Homo sapiens: one gene and its partners. The protein of the gene in region 1 binds, or shares a complex with, the protein of each later gene. Each region holds a gene or a part of one and is shown in the gene's direction. Other genes may lie near its edges.

What was found.
Region 2: DRC3 (region 1) and DRC10 share a complex: the UniProt entries of both Homo sapiens proteins name them as parts of the nexin-dynein regulatory complex.
Region 3: DRC3 (region 1) and DRC7 share a complex: the UniProt entries of both Homo sapiens proteins name them as parts of the nexin-dynein regulatory complex.

Annotation. Positions count from the first base shown.
Region 1 is NC_000017.11:18,010,796-18,017,435, forward strand, and holds the end of DRC3 (dynein regulatory complex subunit 3), read left to right. Parts: intron 1-4,263; exon of another isoform or gene 4,264-5,268; coding exon 5,269-5,400; exon of another isoform or gene 5,401-5,405; coding exon of another isoform or gene 5,406-5,465; intron 5,466-5,762; coding exon 5,763-5,876; 3' UTR 5,877-6,094; downstream 6,095-6,640. UniProt on the Homo sapiens protein: Component of the nexin-dynein regulatory complex (N-DRC) a key regulator of ciliary/flagellar motility which maintains the alignment and integrity of the distal axoneme and regulates microtubule sliding in motile axonemes.
Region 2 is NC_000012.12:113,197,053-113,204,164, reverse strand, and holds part of DRC10 (dynein regulatory complex protein 10), read left to right. Parts: intron 1-3,351; coding exon 3,352-3,585; intron 3,586-6,552; coding exon 6,553-6,624; intron 6,625-7,112. UniProt on the Homo sapiens protein: Component of the nexin-dynein regulatory complex (N-DRC), a key regulator of ciliary/flagellar motility which maintains the alignment and integrity of the distal axoneme and regulates microtubule sliding in motile axonemes.
Region 3 is NC_000016.10:57,725,694-57,732,305, forward strand, and holds the end of DRC7 (dynein regulatory complex subunit 7), read left to right. Parts: intron 1-374; coding exon 375-590; intron 591-1,138; coding exon 1,139-1,249; intron 1,250-1,605; coding exon 1,606-1,716; intron 1,717-2,696; coding exon 2,697-2,891; intron 2,892-5,237; coding exon 5,238-5,377; intron 5,378-5,471; coding exon 5,472-5,565; 3' UTR 5,566-6,112; downstream 6,113-6,612. UniProt on the Homo sapiens protein: Component of the nexin-dynein regulatory complex (N-DRC) a key regulator of ciliary/flagellar motility which maintains the alignment and integrity of the distal axoneme and regulates microtubule sliding in motile axonemes.

The DNA of each region.
Region 1 (6,640 bases):
AGGAGTGGATGCCCATCACCAAGCTGGGCTGCCTGGTCAAGGACATGAAGATCAAGTCCCTGGAAGAGATCTATCTCTTCTCCCCGCCCATCAAGTAGTCTGAGATCATTGACTTTTTCCTGGGGGCCTCTCTCAAGGATGAGGTTTTTTTTTTGTTTGTTTGTTTGTTTGTTTGTTTTTGAGACGGAATTTTGCTTTTTTGCCCAGGCTGGAGTGCAATGGCATGATCTTGGCTCACGACAATCTCCACCTCCCAGGTTCAAGTGATTCTCCTGCCTCAGCCTCCCGAGTAGCTGGGATTACAGGCATGCGCCACCATGCCCAGCTAATTTTGTATTTTTAGTAGAGATGGGGTTTCTCCATGTTGGTCAGGCTGGTCTCAAACTCCTGACCTCAGGTAATCTGCCCGCCTCAGCCTCCCAAAGTGCTGGGATTACAGGCGTGAGCCGCCACGCCAGGCCTAGGATGAGGTTTTAAAGATTATGCCAGTGCAGAAGCAGACCTGCCCCAGCCAGCGCAGCAGGTTCAAGGCGTTTGTTGCCATCAGGGATTACAATGGCCGTGTCACTCTGGGTGTTAAGTGCTCCAAGGAAGCAGCCACTGCTGTCAGAGGGATCACTGTCCTGACCAAGCTCTCTACTGTCCCCGTGCAGAGGCCACTGGGGGACCAAGATTGCAAGCCCCACACTGTCCCTTGCAAGATGACAGGCTGCTGCGGCTCTGTGCTGCTGCACCTTATTCCTGCACCCAGGGGCACTGGCATCCTCTTGGCCTCTGTGCCCAAGAAGATGCTGCTGATGTCCAGTATTGACAACTGCTACACCTCAGCCAGGAGCTGCAGTGCCACCCTGGGCAACTTTGCCAAGGCCACCTTTGATGCCATCTCCAAGACCTATAGCTACCTGCCCCCTGACCTCTGGGAGGAGACTGTGTTCACCAAGTCTTCCTCTCAGTAATTCACTGACCATCTTGTCAAGACCCACACCAGAGTCTCTGTGTGGAGGACTCAGGCTTCAGCTGTGGCTACAACACAGGGTTTTGTTTTGAGATGGAGCCTTGCTCTATCGCCCAGGCTGGAGTGCAGTGGTGCAGTCCTGGCTCACTGCAACCTCCACCACCTGGGTTCACATGATCCTCCTACCTCAGCCTCCCGAGTACCTGGGACTACAAGCGCACACCACCATGCCTGGTTAATTTTTTGTATTTTTAGTAGAGATGGGGTTTTACCAATGTTGGCCGGCCAGGCTGGTCTCAAACTCCTGACCTCAAGTGATCCGCCCACCTTGGCTTCCCAAAGTAACACAGGGTTTTTATATAAGAAAAATAAAGTGAATTAAGCCTGTTTAAAACAAACAAAAACACAGATACATAAACCAATGAAACAGAATAGAGAACTCAGAAATTAATCTATATATTTACAGCCAACTGATTTTTGACAAAAGCGCCAAGAACACTCACTGGGGAAAAGACAGTCTCTTCAATAGATTTTGCTGGGAAAACTGGATATCCATATGCAGAAGAATGAAACTAGATTCCCATCTCTCACTCTATACAAAAATCAACTAAAAATGGATCTAAGACCTACATGTAAGACCTGAAACTGGCAGGGCGCAGTGGCTCATGCCTGTAATCCCAGCACTTTGGGAGCCTGAGACAGACAGGTCGCTGGAGCTCATGAGTTGGAGACCAGCCTGGGCAACATGGCAAAGACCCACCTCTCTATAAAAAATACAAAAATTAGCTGGGCATGGTGGTACCTGCCTATAGTCCCAGCTACTCAGGATGCTGAGGTGGGAGGATGGCTTGAGCCCAGGAGGTGGAGGTTGTAGTGAGCTGAAATTGCACCACTGCACTCCAGCCTGAGCAATAGAGCCAGACTTTGTCTCAGAAGAAAAAAAAAAAGACCTGAAACTATAAAATGACCAGAAGAAAACAAGAGAAATGCTTTAGGACATTGGCCTGGGAAAAAATTTTATGAATAAGACCTCAAAAGCACAGACAACAAAAGCAAAAATAAATGGAATATATCAAACTATAAATCTTCTGCACAGCAAATGAAACAACAGAGTGAAAAGACACCCTACACAATGTGACAAAATATTTGCAAACTACTTATCTGACAGGGTATTAATATCCAGAATATACAATGAACTCTAACATCTCAATAGCAAAAAAACAAACAATTCAATTAAAAACATCTGAACAGATGTTTCTCAAAAGAAGACATACAAATGGCCAACAAATACATTAAAAACTTTTCAGCATCACTAGTTATCAGGGAAATGCAAATAAGAACCAGAATGAGGCATCATCTCACCCCACTTAGGATGATAATTATCAAAAAGACAAAAAATAACAAATGCTGGTGAGGATGCAAAGAAAAAGGAACTCATATACTGTAAGTAAGAATGTAAACTAGGACAGCCACTAGGAAGAACATTGTGGAGGGCCCTCAAAAACTACAAACAGAACTATCATATGATCCAGCAATCTCACTACTGAGCATTTGTCTAAAGGAAAGGAAATCACTATATTGAAAACATATCTGCACCCATGTTTACTGCAGCACTGTTCGCAATAACAAGATACAGAATCAACCTAGGTGTCCAACAACAGATGACTGGATAAAGAAAATGTGGTACCTATACACAATGGAATACTATTCAGCCATAAAAAAAGAATGAAATCCATGGCAACATGGATGGAACTGGAGGACATTATGTTAAGTGAAATAAGCCAGGAACAGAAAGTTAAACACCTCATGTTCTCACTCATATGCCGAAGCTAAAAAAGTTGATCTCATAGAAGTAAAAACAAGAACAGAGGCTTCTAGAGACTGGGAAGGGTAGAGAGATGGAGGAATAGGGAGAGATTTGTTAAAGGATATACCAAATTACAGCTAGATAGGGGGAATAAGTTCTAGTGTTCTATACCACTATGGGATGACTATAGTTGACAATAATATAGTTTCAAATAGCTAAAAGGAGGATATTGAATGTTCTCAACACAAAGAAATGATAAATGTTTGAGACGGATATGCTAATACCCTGATCTGATCACTATACATGATAGGTGTTGAAACATCACTATGTACCCCATCAATATGTACAGTTATTTGTCAATTTTTTTAATGCCAATTTTTTTTTTTTTTTTTGAGGTGGAGTTTCACTGTTGTTGCCCAGGCTGTAGTGCAGTGGTGCAATCTTGGCTCACTGCAACCTCGGCCTCCCAGGTTCAAGCTATCCTCCTGCCTTAGCCTTCCAAGTAGATGGGATTACAGGCACCCGCCACCATGCCCAGCTAATTTTTGTATTTTTATTCACCATATTGGCCAGGCTGGTCTTGAACTCCTGACTGAGGTGATCCACCCACCTTCCCGCCTTGGCCTCCCAAAGTGCTGAGATTACAGGCATGTGACACCGTGCCCGGCCAGTGCCAACGTGTTTAAACAAAGAAGTTGCTTTGAAAGAAATGTGTCTTTACAGCCACAAGGACCACAGAGCAGGGCAACAGCTCAAAAAAGACTCAGGAATACCTGTTTGCACAGCCCCTGCCTCCACCCTAGTGCTTTCAACCTGCAGAAACTGGAGAGGGATCTGGAATATTCTACCCATAAAAACTATTCTAAGAGGGAAAATTGAAGTAGCCACCACTCTAGGCCACCCAAAGTCCAGAAACAACTTGTAACTCACATTTCAAAACAATTCCCTTAAACCCAGTTTCCTTTTGTTTTCATTTTACAAATGTCACACAGTTTTTCATAACCAATTCTAATCATGTATGTTTCTAAGCAGATTTCAGTTTCTGTTGCTTCTCACAGCTTTTGAAGCTGTTTTCTACATATTCAAACTCTGAGGGGTATGATTTCTCTGCCTGGCTTAGAGCTCCACTATGACCCACCTTTTAGAATGAAGGATGAGAACCTTTTCGTGATGGGTTGACACTGTGGTTGTAGTTATCTCTAAAATAACCAGGACACCCACTCCTAAGCACACTGCCAAGGCTCACCGAAAACAGGCTTTACACACCTTTGAACCATTCCCAGAGCCTGGCCTGGGACCTTGTACACACATGGAAAGAACTTAATAATTTCTTGACATTTCTCCCTTGTGACTGTGCTAATTGGTCCCCCAGACACCCCATTCCACATATCAGCTAACCTGGCTTTTCCCACATGAGATTATGTGGAAAATCAGCATCCCACAAGACATTAACAGGCATTACTCTGAAGTCTGTAGCCAAAAAAGTTGGAAAACCAAGAGAGACAAAGCTTAAAGGGTTTATTTTCCACAGGACTTTGTAGAGCCTTCAGAATACTTTGTGCCCAGCAAATCTTTAGGAGGGGCCTAGGATGTGCTGGCTTTCCCAAATGTATTTGACCAAAGAATACTTTTTTTGGCAGAAATATTAACATCTTAAGATTGCACAGAACGTTTTAGAGACCATTAAGTTAACTGCCACTACAGGAAAGAACAAAAAATGCACACTCCACTTGCAAATCCTCCCTGCAATACAGAGCATTCAGGTGCTCTGCCTTACCAAGCGCCTCTGCTTCAAGGTGGAAGCAACTGCTTACTGAGTGCTTCAGTGGCCTTGCCCTGCTCTGGGAAATGACTCCATTTCAACCATCCCAGGCAACAATAGCCACAGTGTCAACACCTAGAACCAGTGAGGCCTATTAGAAGGTGGTTGTTTCTAACAACTTTTTACAAGACAGCAAAGTCAGGAACAAGAGAAGGCAGAAGGATACTCCAAATGGAATCCAAAGTTTGGTTTTGTTGACATGAGTGGCAGTGGAGAGACAACTGTGGGGTGAACACCCATGAGTTTGTAGGGCCTGCTGTCTTCAGAGCAGCCTCGAGACCCTCAGCCAGCCTCATGCTTCCACCCAGCAGGCAGAGGTTTTGGGCAAGTTAGACTTGAGAGTAATTGAGAGAGAAGCATTGTGAGAACAGATGTCCTGGGTGAGGTGCCCCCTGGGCAGCCATCTGCCTTCACCCTGGAGGAAACATGCTTCCAGCGGGGACTGCAAAGTAACACCCTGGTTGGCCCTTTCCCCACAACACCTGCCCTGTGCAGTTGGGGAAGCGGCTGTCACAGATGAATTCACAGATGAATCGGCAGAGTGCGCTGATACAAAGGTGGGCTCTGCTCTGAGTGTGGCCTGCACAGCCAGGGGACTTCCAAATGCTCCTTCTCTGTTCAGCTCCCTTTGTGTTCACGGTATAATGACACACACTTTCTCATTGGATTCTTTTCACTCACCAGCTTTTTGTCGATAAAGATACGATTGTTAATGCTGTCGGGGCATCGCACGACATCCACCTCCTGAAGATTGACAATCGAGAAGATGAGCTGGTGACCAGAATCAACTCTTGGTGTACACGTTTAATAGACAGGGTGAGTCAATCCCAAGCCATCCTAGCAGGCTGGATGAACTTTTCTAGCTGACATGGAAATCCTCCCTAGGTAGTGGATAGAATTTTCATTAAGGAATGAAATGAAGGAAGAAATAAAATTAAGGATTATAGAATTCCACACTGAAGACAACATTGCCCAGAGACTTTAAAACCCATGGGCTTCATCATTTTCCTAATTCCTACCTCAAATATACAGAGATCAGCAGAACCTGGGGAGGCGCTGAAGCAAATGAGGTTTGCAGATCTAAAGGAACTATTTTCCCCTTCCCTCAAACTGGATTCAGTGAAAGATATTAACCAATGATCTGATGTAAGGAATCGGGCTTTGGTTTCACTCCTCAGATTCACAAGGATGAGATCATGAGGAACCGCAAGCGCGTGAAGGAGATCAATCAGTACATCGACCACATGCAGAGCGAACTGGACAACCTGGAATGTGGCGACATCCTAGACTAGATGAATGTCAGCCACAGGAGCTTCTTCAAAACATAGCACCAGCCCCAGCCAGGAGAAGGAAGTGCACACGCCTCACCCGCACCTCTAGAGAGTTGCTGGGCATCTCTCAACCGCGATCCCCAACACCATTCTTCCCCCACCCCTGGAAAAACTTCCAAAAGTAGAGAAAATAAAGGACTCATTTCACATTTCCCCTACTCATAAAAAAAAAAAAAAAATCAGCTGGGTGCGGTGGTTCACGTCTGTAATCCCAGCACTTTGGGAGGCCGAGGCATGCAGATCACGAGGTCAGGAGTTCGAGACCAGCCTGACCAACATGGTGAAACCTTGTCTCTACTAAAAATACAAAAATTAGCCAGATGTGGTAGCGTGCACCTGTAATCCCAGCTACTCAGGAGGCTGAGGCAGGAGAATCACTTGAACCTGGGAGGCGGAGGTTGCAGTGAGCCAAGATCGCACCACTGCACTCCAGCCTGGGCGACAGAGCGAGACTTCGTCTCAAAAAAAAAAAAAAAAAAAAAAAAAAAAAAAAAAAAATGTTCATGTAGGAACAAGAGAAAGAGTTTGAGATGAACAGCCGGTCCCAGGCCAGCTGACAGAGCAACTCCCAAGGGCACTGCCATCAGCTAGATTCTTGGCTGTGGCATAAAGTCAGACACGTGCCCCTGCCGTTTCCCCTGCCATGCCTAGGCAGGCTGCCAGCCACAGGCAAAAGGAGGCCGGTGTGGGCTAAGACCTTCTCTGCTCTGGGTGCTGAGGGGCAG
Region 2 (7,112 bases), on another chromosome or scaffold:
CTCCTGGGCGATTCTCCTGCCTTAGCCTTTTGAGTAGCTGAAACTACAGGCATGCGCCACCACTCTTGGCTAATTTTTTACATTTTTGTAGAGACAGGGTCTCGCTATGTTGCCCAGGCTGGTTTCGAACTCCTGGGCTCAAGCAATCTCCCTGCCTCAGCCTCCCAAGTAGCTGTGACTACAGGCACATGCCACCATGCCTGCCTAATTAATTTTTTTTCTTTTTTTAGAGATGGGGTGTCTGGCTGGAAGTAGTGGCTCACACCTATAATCCCAGCACTTTGGGAAGCCAAGGCAGATGGATCACTTGAGGTCAAGAGTTCAAGACCAGCCTGGGCAACAGGGTGAAACCCCATCTCTACAAAAAAAAAAAAAAAAAAAAAAAAATTAGCTGGGCACAGTGGCTCATGCCTGTAATCCCAGCACTTTGGGAGGCTGAGGCAGGCAGATCACCTAAGGTCAGGAGTTCGAGACCAGCCTGACCAACATGGTGAAACCCCATCTCTACTCATAATATAAAAATTAGCTGGGTGTGGTGGCGTGCACCTATAATCTCAGCTACTCGGGAGGCTGAGGCACAAGAATTGCTTGAACCCAGGAAGTGGAGATTGCAGTGAGCCTAGATTGCACCATCATACTCCAGCCTGTGCGACAGAGTGAGACTCTGTCTCAATGAAAGGGAAGGGAAGGGAAGGGGTGGGGAGGGGAGGGGAGGGGTCTTACTCTGTTACCCAGGCTGGTCTTAAACTCCTAGCTTCAAGGGATCCTCCAGCCTCAGCCTCCTGAGTAGCTAGGATTATAGGCATACCACACCAGTTAGAAGAATTGTTAAGAAGGGAAATGGCGGTGTGGTGGCTCACGCCTGTAATCCCAACACTTTGGGAGGCCAAGGCAGGTGGATCACTTGAGCTCAGGAGTTTGAGACCAGCCTGGGCAACACGGCAAAACCCTGTCTCTACGTAAAAGACAAAATTAGCTGGGCGTGGTGGTATGCACCTGTAGTCCCAGCTACTCAGGAAGCTGAGGTGGGAGGATCACTTGCGCCCAGAAGGCAGAGGTTGCAGGGAGCTGAGATCGCACCACTGTACTCCAGCCTGGCTGCAGAGCAAGACCCTGTCTCAAAAAAAAAAGGGAAACAGTAGCATGATCCCAAACCCTAATAATAATTGTCATATTGCACACATACAGTGTATTTAGTTTAACATACATTTTCTCTCTAAATCTTTACAAAAACCCTGTGAGATGGTGTATGAGTACAGATTTGGCTGCTATAACAGAGACACCCAAAATAGCTGTGGCTTAGTCAAGATGGCAGTGTATTTCTCTGTAGTGGAAACACCGGAGCTGGTGTGGCATCTCTGCTCCCCAACTTGTCAGAGGTCTGGTTTCTTCTATGTGACTTCCCTGCTGTCCCCAACATGGGACTTCTGCTTGTGGGCCAAGATGGCTGCTCCAGCTTTCCCCATCATGTGGCCCCCAGTCTAGCCAGCAGGAAGGAGGAAAGGGGAGGAGAGGGCTTGGTTCTGCCCCTTAAGGACACGTGTGGAGGTGGCACACAGAACTTCCATGCATATCTTGTAGCCACACCCAGCAGAGAGAAGTGCTAGGAAGGACCGACCACCCGTCACTGGGGCTGTGTTATGCTCCACATTCTACCCCACAGCCTCTCTGGGGAGAGCAGACATGGGGGTAGCCAGGCTGCACTGCCACAGGCCCTTCTGTTTCTATCCCCCACCACTGATGAAAGGTTCAAGGCCCTGGGAAACTATTCACAGCCCCCTCCCTGGTGCTGGGTTGGGCACTTCTCACTGAATTTGTCCTTTAAAGCATTCACCTGACTTTGTGGATAACATTCACCTGACTTTGTGGATAACATATGTGTGTGTGATTTGTGTGGTCTTGAGGGGTCTGGCTCCTCCACAAGAAAAGGGGGACCTTGTCTCTTTCAGCCTGCCACTGTGTCCCCAGTGAGCCTGTCCAAAAGAGGGGCATGATGTATACTTGTTGAGTGGACAGAGGACCAGCTGCTGAGCCCTCGGGCAGGGAGGTTACTAGTAAGGTGGGAGGGGCATCATCTAGGAATAGGCAGAGGGACACAGGTGGCCCTGCTGGTCTCATTCAGGTGCTAGAACCAGCTTGGGGCTTCACCTTGGACTGACCTGGGCTCAAATGCCATTTTTGCCAGGTGGGCAAATTTCATGTCATTGAACCTCAGTGTACAGTGAGGGGAGACACCAATCAGGCACGTGTGGGGAGTCTACAGGGAGAGCTCTGACTGCCGATCATATTCCCAGCGCCTGGTGCCTAAAGCCTTGCCTGCAGGATGGGCTTGCCCCAAAGGCACTGCCTCCCTGCCCCCAGTGTGCAGGAAGTGAGCAGATGCCCGGCGGGCCTGCTGCCAGCTGACCCAAGCCCAAGATGGTGGCGTGAGCAGCCATAGCACCGCTGTGCTCAGAGGGAGACTCTAGTGTAGTGAGAAGCCTTGAGAGCTTCTTTACAAAACTGTCTCATCCTCCACCCCCATTCCTGTTCTAGAATCCACCCAAGGCAGGGGACAAGCCAGACATGGGCCCTCAAGAAAGAGCCCGGTGGCAATCCCTGCAGCCTGTGTTCATCGCACACCTTCATGCACCCCACTAAGTGTCTCTGCCAGCTGGGCCTCCCCTGCTGTGTCCCCAGGAGGAGCATCGCCGCTGTCCCAGTCCTCCCCTGTGGCCTCAATCCAACAAGCTTGTACCCTTCACTCGTGCAAGGAAATAGAAAGTGGTGGCCAAGAACGTGGGCTCAAGGTCAGACAAACCTGGCTTCAGGCCCCAGTTCAGCTGGGCAACCCCAGACAGATGAAGCCACCTCCTTGAGCCTCAGTTGTCTTGTCTGTAATCAGGCTGTCCCTGACCTCCATTGTGGGGTTGGGGGTGTGATTAGAGAGATATAACCCAGGTGGCATGCCTGGCCCTGAGGGAGGATGCAGTGGTGCCAGCCTCTGGTGACTGTCAGTGGATATGGAGAGTTGCTTTTTTTTTTGAGATGGAATCTCACTCTGTCACCCAAGTAAAAGTGCAGTGGTATGATATCTCCGCTCACTGCAATCTCTACTTCCTGTATTCAAGTGATTCTCCTGCCTCAGCCTCCCGAGTAGCTGGGATTACAGGCATGCACCACCACACCCAGCTAATTTTTGTATTTTTAGAAGAGACGGGATTTCATCATGTTAGCCAGGCTGGTCTCAAACTCCTGACCTCAGGTGACCCACCCACCTCAGCCTCCCTAAGTGTTGGGATTACAGGCGTGAGCCACTGTGCCCGGCTGGGCATGGAGGTATTAACGGAGCCCTTTCTCTTCCTGGCTTAGGTGGAAAAGGAGAACTTTGTGATCCAAGAACTGAAAAACCACCTGCACCAGGTGCTCAAGTTCTCAGAGAACAGCCTCGTTCGCACTAAGCAGGAGGCTGAGAAGCAGCAGAAGGCCGATTTCCGGGCATCACAGGCCAGGGTGGCCAAGATCCAGCAGGAGATCCTGCAGCTGCAGTCACAGTTTTACAACCTGGTCATGGAGAACCGGGAGGCAGAGCAGGCGCTGAGGAAGGTGCCCCGGGAAGCAGCGAGGATGGGCCGAGGGGGCCCCTGGTGGGGGGGATGGGTGGGACTGTTCCATCACTCCTGGAGGTCCAGCAGTGTTGGGCAGGGCAGGACTGCACCAGCTACTCAGGAAGTGGCTTGGTGGAGGGGAAGGGCACAGGAGCAGGGAAGGCCCAAATCCAAGCCAGTGTCTCCTGGGAGGCAGGAAGGGGCAGCACACAGGCCTGGGGACAGGGGACAAACTGGGATCCTGTCCCAGCATTGCTGCATGCCAGCTTTGTGACCTTGGGCAAGTTCCTCAACTCCTGAGACCCCACAGGGATAATACCCACATCGTCAGAGGCTGGGTGCCCTGCAAAGGAATGAAGAAGTAGCATGTAAAGCTCAGGCTAATTACTCAACTCCTGCCCAGCTGCCGATTTCACACCTCAGAAATGAAAATGCTAACATTGGTCTTAATGGTTGTTACATGAGAATTACATGAGATGGTAGTGAGAGAGCTGGTGCATAGTAAGTGTTCAATAAATATCATTTCTGACCGGGTAAGGTGGCTCATGCCTGTAATCCCAACACTTTGGGAGGCTGAGGTGGGAGGATCGCTTGAACCCAGGAGGCGGAGGCTGCAGTGAGCTGTGATTGCACCACTGCACTCCAGCCTGGGCAACAGCAAGACCCTGTCTGTACAAAGAATAAAAGATAAATTAGTCAGGCGCTGTGATGTGTGCCTATAGTCCCAGCTACTTGGGAGGCTGAGGCAGGAGGATCACTTTAGCCCAGGAGTTTGGAGGCTGCAGTGAACTATAACTGTGCCACTGCATTCCAGCCAGGTCAACAGAGTGAAACCTTGCCTCTTAAAAAAAAAAACCCAAAACCTTCATTTGCCTTCTCCTTCATCATCTCAGCCAAGACCCAGGCCTAGCACACACCCAACTTCCAAATCTCTTTCCTTGTAAAAGGCACCCTTTTTAATACTTGTCTCCAGTCTCTTAGTGTCACACTCTTGAGCATCTGATGGAAGCCACGGGCCTCTCCCCCAGAAAGAAGGCACAGATGCACTTACACATCCTAGTGGACAGTTCCCTGGGGAGCCCAGTCCCCCTGAAGCCGGCCTACCCATGGTGCCCAAGCTAAGGGCTCTTGCTCTGTAGGATTAGGGGGTTTATTTATTTATTTATTTATTTATTTATGTTTGAGACAGGGTCTCACTCTGTCACCCATGCCAGAGTGCAGTGGCGTGATCATAGCTCACTTCAGCCTCCAACTCCTGGGCTCAAGTGATCCTCCCATCTCAGCCCTCATGGGTCGCTGGGGCATGTCACCACGTCTGGCTAATTACAAATTATTATTATTGGCTGGGAGCAGTGGCTCACGCCTGTAATCCCAGCACTTTGGGAGGCTGAGGCAGACGGATCTCCTGAGGTCAGGAGTTCGAGACCAGCCTGGCCAATGTGGTGAAACCCTGTCTCTACTAAAAATACAAAATTAGCCGGGCGTGGTGGCATGCACCTGTAATCCCAGCTACTTGGGAGGCTGAGGCATGAGAATTGCTTGAACTCAGGAGGCGGGGGTTGCGGTGAACCGAGATCACACCACTGCACTCCAGCCTGGGTGACAGAGCGAAACTCCATCTCAAAAGAAAAAAAAAAAGTATCATTTTTTGTGGAGACAGGGTTTTGCTCTGTTGCCCAGGCTGATCTAGAACTTGTGGCCTCAAGCAATTCTCCCATTCCCACCGTGGCCTCCCAAATGGTTGGGATGAGCCACTGGCCCAGCCTGCTTATTTTTAATTTAGGTGAAACTTACATAACATAAAACCATTTTAAAATGAGCAATTCAGTGGCATTTAGTATATTCACGATGTTGTGCCACCCCCACTTCCACCACTTCTATCTAGTTCCAAAACATTATCACCTCAAAATAAAACTCCATATCCATTAAGAAGTTACTCCCCATTCCCTTATTCCCCCTGTCCCTGGCAATCACTAATGTGCTTTCTGTCTCTGTGGATTCACCTATTCTAGACACTTCATATGAATGGAATCTTCTGTGGCCGTTGTGTCTGGCATGTTTTACTTAGCACTGTGTTTTCAAGGTTCACCCATGTTGTAGCATGGATCAGTGCTTCACTGCTTTTTATGGTGGAAATAATCTTTTAAAAACAAGATTAGATCATGTCCCTCCACTGCATCTAAATCACCCAGTGGCTTCACCTCACCCTTTCCTGAGAATACAGCCTCCTCTTGCTGACACTCCCTCTGTGACACAGCCTTTTCCTTGGACCTTGTTGGGGACCACTTTCCTCCTCGCCACTCCCTTCCAGTCACACTGGCTTGATTTCTGTCCTTTAATTTTTTTTTTAATTTTTATTTTTTGAGACAGTCTTGCTCTGTCACCCAGGCTGGAGTGTGGTGGCATGATCTCAGCTCACTGCAAACTCTGCCTCCTGGGTTCAAGTGATTCTCCTGCCTCAGCCTCCTGAGTAGCTGAGATTACAGGTGTGCATCACCATGCCTGGCTAATTTTTGTATCTTTAGTAGAGATGGGGTTTTGGCATGTTGGCCAGGCTGGTCTCAAACTCCTGGCCTCAAGTGACCCGCCTGCCTCAGCCTCCCAAAGCGCTGGGATTACAGGCGTAAGCCACCACGCCAGGCTGATTTCTGTCCTTTAAACAGCACAAGCTTGTTCCTACCTCAGGGCCTTTGCACCTGCTGCTTTCTCTGCCTAGGATGTCCTGGAACCAGGCTGCTGGCATCAAATTCAGGCTCTGCCACCCATTAGCTCTGTCACCTTGGGCAAGTAAGATAGCATGTCTGAGCCTCAGTTCTCTCCCCTGTGAAATGGAGAAAAGGGAACCTCCTTGTTCAATAGGCGAGGCATGTCAAGCACCTGCCAGAGCCTAGTGATGCAGAGAGTGCTCAGTGCTGTTGATTGTTAATATATTCCATCAAACAATGACAAATTGGATCTTTTCTAGAAGAAATATAAAGTGGAAACGGAAATCGAGAACTGGATCCAGAAATATGATACAGAGATGGGTGAGAAGCAGGTATTTGTCGCTGAATAAGTCTCTCTCGCATGCTTTTCCCAAGACCTTCTAGGAATGGGATGAATGGGAAAAGTAGCCTTGGGATGGTCCATGGAGTGGGCAAACTTCTGAGCCTCTCTGCAGGGAGCACTTCCCTTTGTTTAAAGGGTTTGTCCAGCCTGGGGCAGAGTGAGAGGTGGGAAAGAAAAGAGCCAGAAGCTGCAAGGCCAGGTGCTGTGGCTCATGCCTGTAATCCCAGCACGTTGGGAGGCTGAGGTGGGAGGATCGCTTGAGCTCAGTAATTCAAGACCGGCCTGGGCAACAGAGCAAGACTCCATCTCTATTAATTTAAAAAAAAAAAAAAAAAAAAAGCGACTGGCTAGAAGGGCCTGACACTCTGACACTGGGCCTAATGATCATGGCTCCATCTAGTGTCCACATCCCATACTCCTCTGGATGGGCTCCTGCCAGCACCCCTACAAGGTGGGGCTCCTTCCCACAGACTCAGA
Region 3 (6,612 bases), on another chromosome or scaffold:
TTCATGTCATTACAAATTAGTTGGCAACTGTGTGTAATGGCAGCATGCCAAAGAAGCTCTTTCTAGCAGTAAGGGATGTCTAGCAATGGAGTAGGCTGCCTGGAGAGGTGGTGAGCTCCCCATCTCTTGAGGTAGGCAAGCAGAGTCTTGAAGGAGCTGAGGAGGGGCCCAGCACCATATGGGAGTGGAGTGGCCTGGCCCTGAGAACCCACGAAATCCATTGTCTGGCTAGGAGGGGCTATTCCACGTGAATCGCCAAACGACCCCAGACTCCAGTGTCCTGAACGTTCGTTGCTCCTGCCTGCGGGCATGCACAGAAATCTCCTCTCACACGCTCATCCTTTGCTCATCCTTTGCATGTTCTGGCCTCCCAGAAAATCACAGAGCGGTTCTTCCGCAACCCAGCGAAGCCCGCGGAGGAGGACGTGGCAGAGCGCGTGTTTCTGGTCGCGGAGGAGCGCATCCAGCTGCGCTACCACTGCCGTGAGGACCACATCACGGCCTCCAAGCGCGAGTTCCTGCGGCGCACCGAGGTGGACAGCAAAGGCAACAAGATCATCATGACGCCCGACATGTGCATCAGCTTCGAGGTGGGCCTGGGGGCCACGGCGGGCAGGGGTCGGCTGCAGGAGGAACCGGGGCTCTCTGTCTTATTCCAGCCACTTGGGAGAACCAGGATGGGCGCTGGTGAATCCCGGCGAGGAAATTCATCTTTGCTCTTTGGGAAAACCAAAAGTTCCCATCTGGGGACCCTTCTCTTTGAGCTCCTCTGAAAATCTTCCTTTTCCACCAAAAAAGCGAACTCAGCAGGCTAAGACGACTCTGCAGTCCTGGTCAGGGCAAACCTCAGATCCTAGGGAGGCTCTGTGGGAGGGGAAGAGTCTCACTACCTCTGAGGGGCTAGCTTTCCTAGTCAAACGCTCACTCTCCCGGCACAGTCCCCAGCTTTTCTGAGTCTTCAGTTCCTCTTTTATTATTATCTGTATTTTTATAAGTGAGAAAATTAAGGCTCAGAGAGGTTTAGCAACTTGCTCGAGGTCACACAGCTGGAAAGTGGCAGGGGTAGATTTGAACCCAGGTGGTCCTATGCCCCGATCATGGCAGCCTCTCTGTGTTACTAAGGTGGTTGTTGTCCCAGGTGGAGCCCATGGAGCACACCAAGAAGCTGCTCTACCAGTACGAGGCCATGATGCACCTGAAGAGGGAGGAGAAGCTGTCCAGACATCAGGTCTGGGAGTCAGAGCTGGAGGTAGGGTCCTGTGGGAGAGTGAGCAGGTGGGCGGTATCTTTGTTTTTGAGATAGGGTCTCGCTCTATAACCCAGGCTGGAATGCAGTGGCGCAATTATGGCTCTACATCCCGGGCTCAGGTGGTCCTCCCACCTCATCCTCCCAGGTAACTGGGACCACTAGCGCACACCACCATGCCTGGCTAATTTCTTGTTTTTGTTTTTGTTTTTTAACAGATGGGGTTTTTCCATTTTGCCCAGGCTGGTCTCAAACTCCTGAATTCATGCAATCTGCCCTCCTTGGCTTCCCAAAGTGCTGGGGTTACAGGAGTGGAGGAGGGGTGTCTCCATCACGCCCTCCAACACTTCTCATTTCAGGTGCTGGAGATTCTGAAGCTTCGAGAGGAAGAGGAGGCGGCGCACACACTGACCATCTCCATCTATGACACCAAGCGGAATGAGAAGAGCAAGGAATATCGGGAGGCCATGGTCAGTCCCAATCCCTTCTCCAGGCCCCAGCTTTTCCTAGACCCCCCTGGTCTCCAGGGTGGTGGGGACCATGAGGGATTCTGCTGAGAAACCCTCTGTGGGGGATACGGTTATTGATACCATGCGGTCATCCTTGCTGCTGAACTGACCATTTCTATGGTTCATCCCAAAGAGTACTTGGGATTTGGGCAAGGTTTCCCCCCATCCCCAGGGGCTGTAGCCAAGCCAAGGCCTGTGGTTGGGAAAAGAATTAAAATTATGTGCCCACCTCTACTCAGGGCTCCCACTGAGGTTGCACCCTGGGCCAGTGGCCCCAGTGAGCTACCTCTGGCTCCAGGCCTGAGCTCTCCTGCTCTCCAGCACAGGGAGGGCATTCAGGTTACACCTTCAGGTTGCAAGGCCCCGCCTGGTTTTCAGGGCCGGCTTCTGAATCCCTTTCACCAACCAAGTTGAGATTTTAGTTTGGGGGTCGTGAGGCAGGATGGGCATCAGATGACTGTTCTCAGATCCCAGGGGAGGGTGTCAGCCCCCACGTCTCCAACTTCACTGCCCCCTGTCTGCAGATGGAGGACACAGGCCCCAGGGTGGAAAAGAAAAGTGAAGGGAGTTACTGGCAGTTTTTAACTAACATCGTTAATAACCACTACCGTTGACTGAATAAGCATCTACTATGGATTGTCAGGCATCAGGCTGCGTGCTTTACAGACATGATCCTGTCAGATCCTCAGATCCTCAGAGAAGGAAACCAAAGCTCAGGTAGTGAGATACAAATTCATGTAAGAAAAAAAGAGTTGGCTGTCACCAGTAAACACAGGTCCAGAGACCAGCATGTGGGCCCTTCTAAGGCCCATCTTGGAGGCGCCATGCACTGGAACCTGGCTGTGAGGTCTGGCTTTGTGCTGGCACACTGCTGATGCAGAGCTGGTGGAGAGGTCTCTGTAGTTCCTGCTGATCCAGCTATCTGCCCCTCACCTTTACAGGAGCGCATGATGCACGAAGAGCACCTGCGGCAGGTGGAGACCCAGCTGGACTACCTGGCCCCATTCCTGGCCCAGCTCCCGCCAGGAGAGAAACTAACATGCTGGCAGGCGGTGCGCCTCAAGGATGAGTGCCTCAGCGACTTCAAGCAGCGGCTCATCAACAAGGCCAACCTCATCCAGGCCCGCTTTGAGAAGGTGCCACCAGGGCCTTTGTTGGGGAGGGGGGGATCTCAGCATCTGCATCCAGGAAATGGGCCCACGGCTGTCCGCCCACTACCTCACAGGCTTGTGAGGGCCTGATGACGGGATGAATATGTCAATGCTTGGGGTTTCCAAATGACTGAGTTGTTCCTCCTCACACTTGTTTATCGGATAGATGAATCGATAGGGGGATGGATGGATGTAGGTATGGATAGGTGGGTGGGTGGGTGGGTGGATGGATGGATGGATAGATGGGTGGATGAATGCATGGGTAGATGGATGAATAGATAGATGGGTGGGTGGATTGATGGGTAGATAGAGGGATGGGTGGGTGCATGAACAGATGGGTGGGTGGATGGGTGGATAAATGGATGGATAGATGGATGGGAGGATGAATGGATGGGTGAGTAGATAGATAGGTGTATGGGTATAGGTATGGATAGGTGGGTGGATGGATGGGTGGGTGGGTGAGTGAGTGAGTGGATGGATGAGTGGGTAGGTGGATGGATGAGTGGGTGGATGGATGAGTGGGTGGGTAGATGGATGAATGGATGGATGGGTGGATGGATGAATGGATGAGTGGGTGGGTAGATGGATGAATGGATGGATGGGTGGATGGATGAATGGATGAGTGGGTGGGTGGGTGGATAGATGAGTGGGTGGGTAGATGGGTGAATGGATGGATGGGTGGATGGATGAATGGATGAGTGAGTGGGTGGATGGATGGATGAGTGGGTGGATGGATGGATGGGTGGATGAGTGAGTGAGTGAGTGGGCAGATGGATGAATGGGTGAGTGGATGGATGAGTGGGCGGGTGGATGGATGAATGGATGGATGGGTGGATAGATGGATGGATGGGTGGGTGGATGAGTGAGTGGGTGGGTGGATGGATGAGTGGGTGGGTGGATGGATGAGTGGGTGGGTGGATGGATGGATGGATGGGTGAGTGAGTGGGTGGGTGGATGGATGAGTGGGTGGGTGGATGGATGAGTGGGTGGGTGGATGGATGGATGGGTGAGTGAGTGGGTGGGTGGATGGATGAGTGGGTGGATGGGGTGGGTGGGTGGATGGATGAATGGATGGGTGGGTGGGTGGATGGATGGATGGATGGATGGATGATGGATGGATGGGTGAGTGGGTGGGTGGATGAGTGAGTGAGCAGGTGGGTGGATGGATGAGTGGGTGGGTGGGTGGATGGGTGGATGGATGGATGAGTGAGTAGGTGGGTGGATGGACGAGTGGGTGGGTGGATGGACGAATGGATGGATGGGTGGATGGATGGATGGATGAATGGATGGGTGGATGAGTGAGTGAGTAGGTGGGTGGATGGATGAGTGGGTGGGTGGATGGGTGGGTGGGTGGATGGATGGATGGATGGGCGAGTGGATAGATGGACGGTTGGATGGGCGAGTGGATAGATGGACAGTTGGATGGATGAGTGGAAGGACGGATGGACGGATGGATGGATGGATGGATGATGGATGGATGGGTGAGTGGGTGGGTGGATGAGTGAGTGAGCGGGTGGGTGGATGGATGAGTGGGTGGGTGGGTGGATGGATGGATGGATGGATGAGTAGGTGGGTGGATGGAAGAGTGGGTGAGTGGATGGATGAATGGATGGATGGGTGGATGGATGGATGGATGAATGGATGGGTGGATGAGTGAGTGAGTAGGTGGGTGGATGGATGAGTGGGTGGGTGGATGGGTGGGTGGGTGGATGGATGGATGGATGGATGGGCGAGTGGATAGATGGACGGTTGGATGGGCGAGTGGATAGATGGACGGTTGGATGGATGAGTGGAAGGACGGATGGACGGATGGATGGGCAGGGATGGGTGGAGGGATGGGCAGAGGAATAGATGGGCAGATGGCTGGGTAGACAGAGAGATGGTACACTGTAACAACTCCTAGTCCTTGACCCATTTTTGTTGGTCAGGCACACACCATGTAGTTCCCGTGCACTACTAAGATTATGTCACTTAATCTTCACAAGGAGCTCTACAAGGGGAGGGGGGAGTACAATGACCCTCCTTTTGTAGACAAGAAATTGCAGGTTCTGAAAATGCCAGTAACTTGTCCAGAGCTACATGGCTCTCTCAGTCTTGCCCCGTTCTGATCTCATGGACATGACATCCCTATAAACATGACCCCACTGGCTCCCACCCAAGATATTTTGTGGCCCCTGCCTCTGTGGCAGGTATGGATAGGTGGCTTGTGTGAGTGGGGACACTGGGGCCAACCGTCATGGTGCTGTCTAGTGACCCATGGGATTGCAGCCTGCAGCCTGGGTGAAGGTCAGCCTTGTCAGTCCTCCTTCTCTGTCTGCCCTATGACCACAGGAGACCCAGGAGCTGCAAAAGAAGCAGCAGTGGTACCAGGAGAACCAGGTGACGCTGACACCCGAGGATGAAGACCTGTACCTGAGTTACTGCTCTCAGGCCATGTTCCGCATCCGCATCCTGGAGCAGCGCCTCAATCGGTGAGCAGGCAGGGCAGGTGGAGAGAACCCACTGGGAGGCTGGACCACCAGCTTTGTAACCCCTCACCCTCTTTCCTTGCCTCTCTGACTTCAGACACAAGGAACTGGCCCCACTGAAGTACCTGGCTCTGGAGGAAAAGCTCTACAAGGACCCACGCCTGGGGGAGCTCCAGAAAATATTCGCTTGATGTCCCTCCTGGGGCCTCAGCCAGAGCTGCCAGAGAAAGGAAACCTCTTCCCGCAGCCTGGCTCCTGTGTTCCCTCTATCCAGCCAATGCCTGTTTACACAGACACCTGGCCTCACTGCCAGCCCACCTCCCCTACAGCCCTGTTTGTTCCTGCTTCTCATGATTTTCCTGTAAATAAACACACTCTTAATTTGCCATTTGTGCCTTGCGCTTCACAAGCTCCAGCAGCAGCCTTTCTCTTCTTCTGTTATCTATAGCCTGGGACCACCCCCTTCCTCCCCTTGGCCTGTCGTTTGCTTCCTGTCCTTCTCTCCGTTGGAATGTCAGGTCTTCACAGCACCTCTGCAGATGGTCCCACAGCCATCTGCAAACAACTGGTTATATCTCAATGTGACTAGGGTGGCCCACCTCACCAAGTGGGATGGGGAAGGCTAAGATGCATGCCCCAGAATTTGAGGACTGAATCCCAGCTCCTCCTCTTACCAGATACCACTTACCCATCTGTGGAATGGGGTAGCATTGTTGCATTAAATAAGACTTATGGCCAGGTGTGGTGGCTCACACCTGTAATCCCAACATTTAGGGAGGCTGAGGCAGGAGGATCACTTGATCCCAGGAGTTTGAGACCAGCCTGGGCAACATAATAAGACCCCATCTCTAAAAAAAAAAAAAAACAAAGAGCCAGGCATGGTGGCATGAGCCTGTAGTCCCAGCTACTCAGGAGGCTGAGGTAGGAGGATCACTTTCACCTAGGAAGTCAAGGCTGCAGTGAGCCATGATTGCACCACTGCACTTCAGCCTAAGCAACAGAGCAAAACCCTGTCTCAAAAAAAAGAAAAAAAAGACATAAATTATAAAGCAGGGAGGCTGGGAATGGCACATAGAAAGCAGTCATTAAATGTTAGCTTACAAAATAGCCAAAAAACACATGAAATGGTTGTCAAATTCATGAGTCATCTGGCAAATGAAATGTCACAACACCCTCCGGTATGAAAAAAATAAAAAGTACTGGTGACGATGAGAAACAACTGGAACTCCCAAATAGCC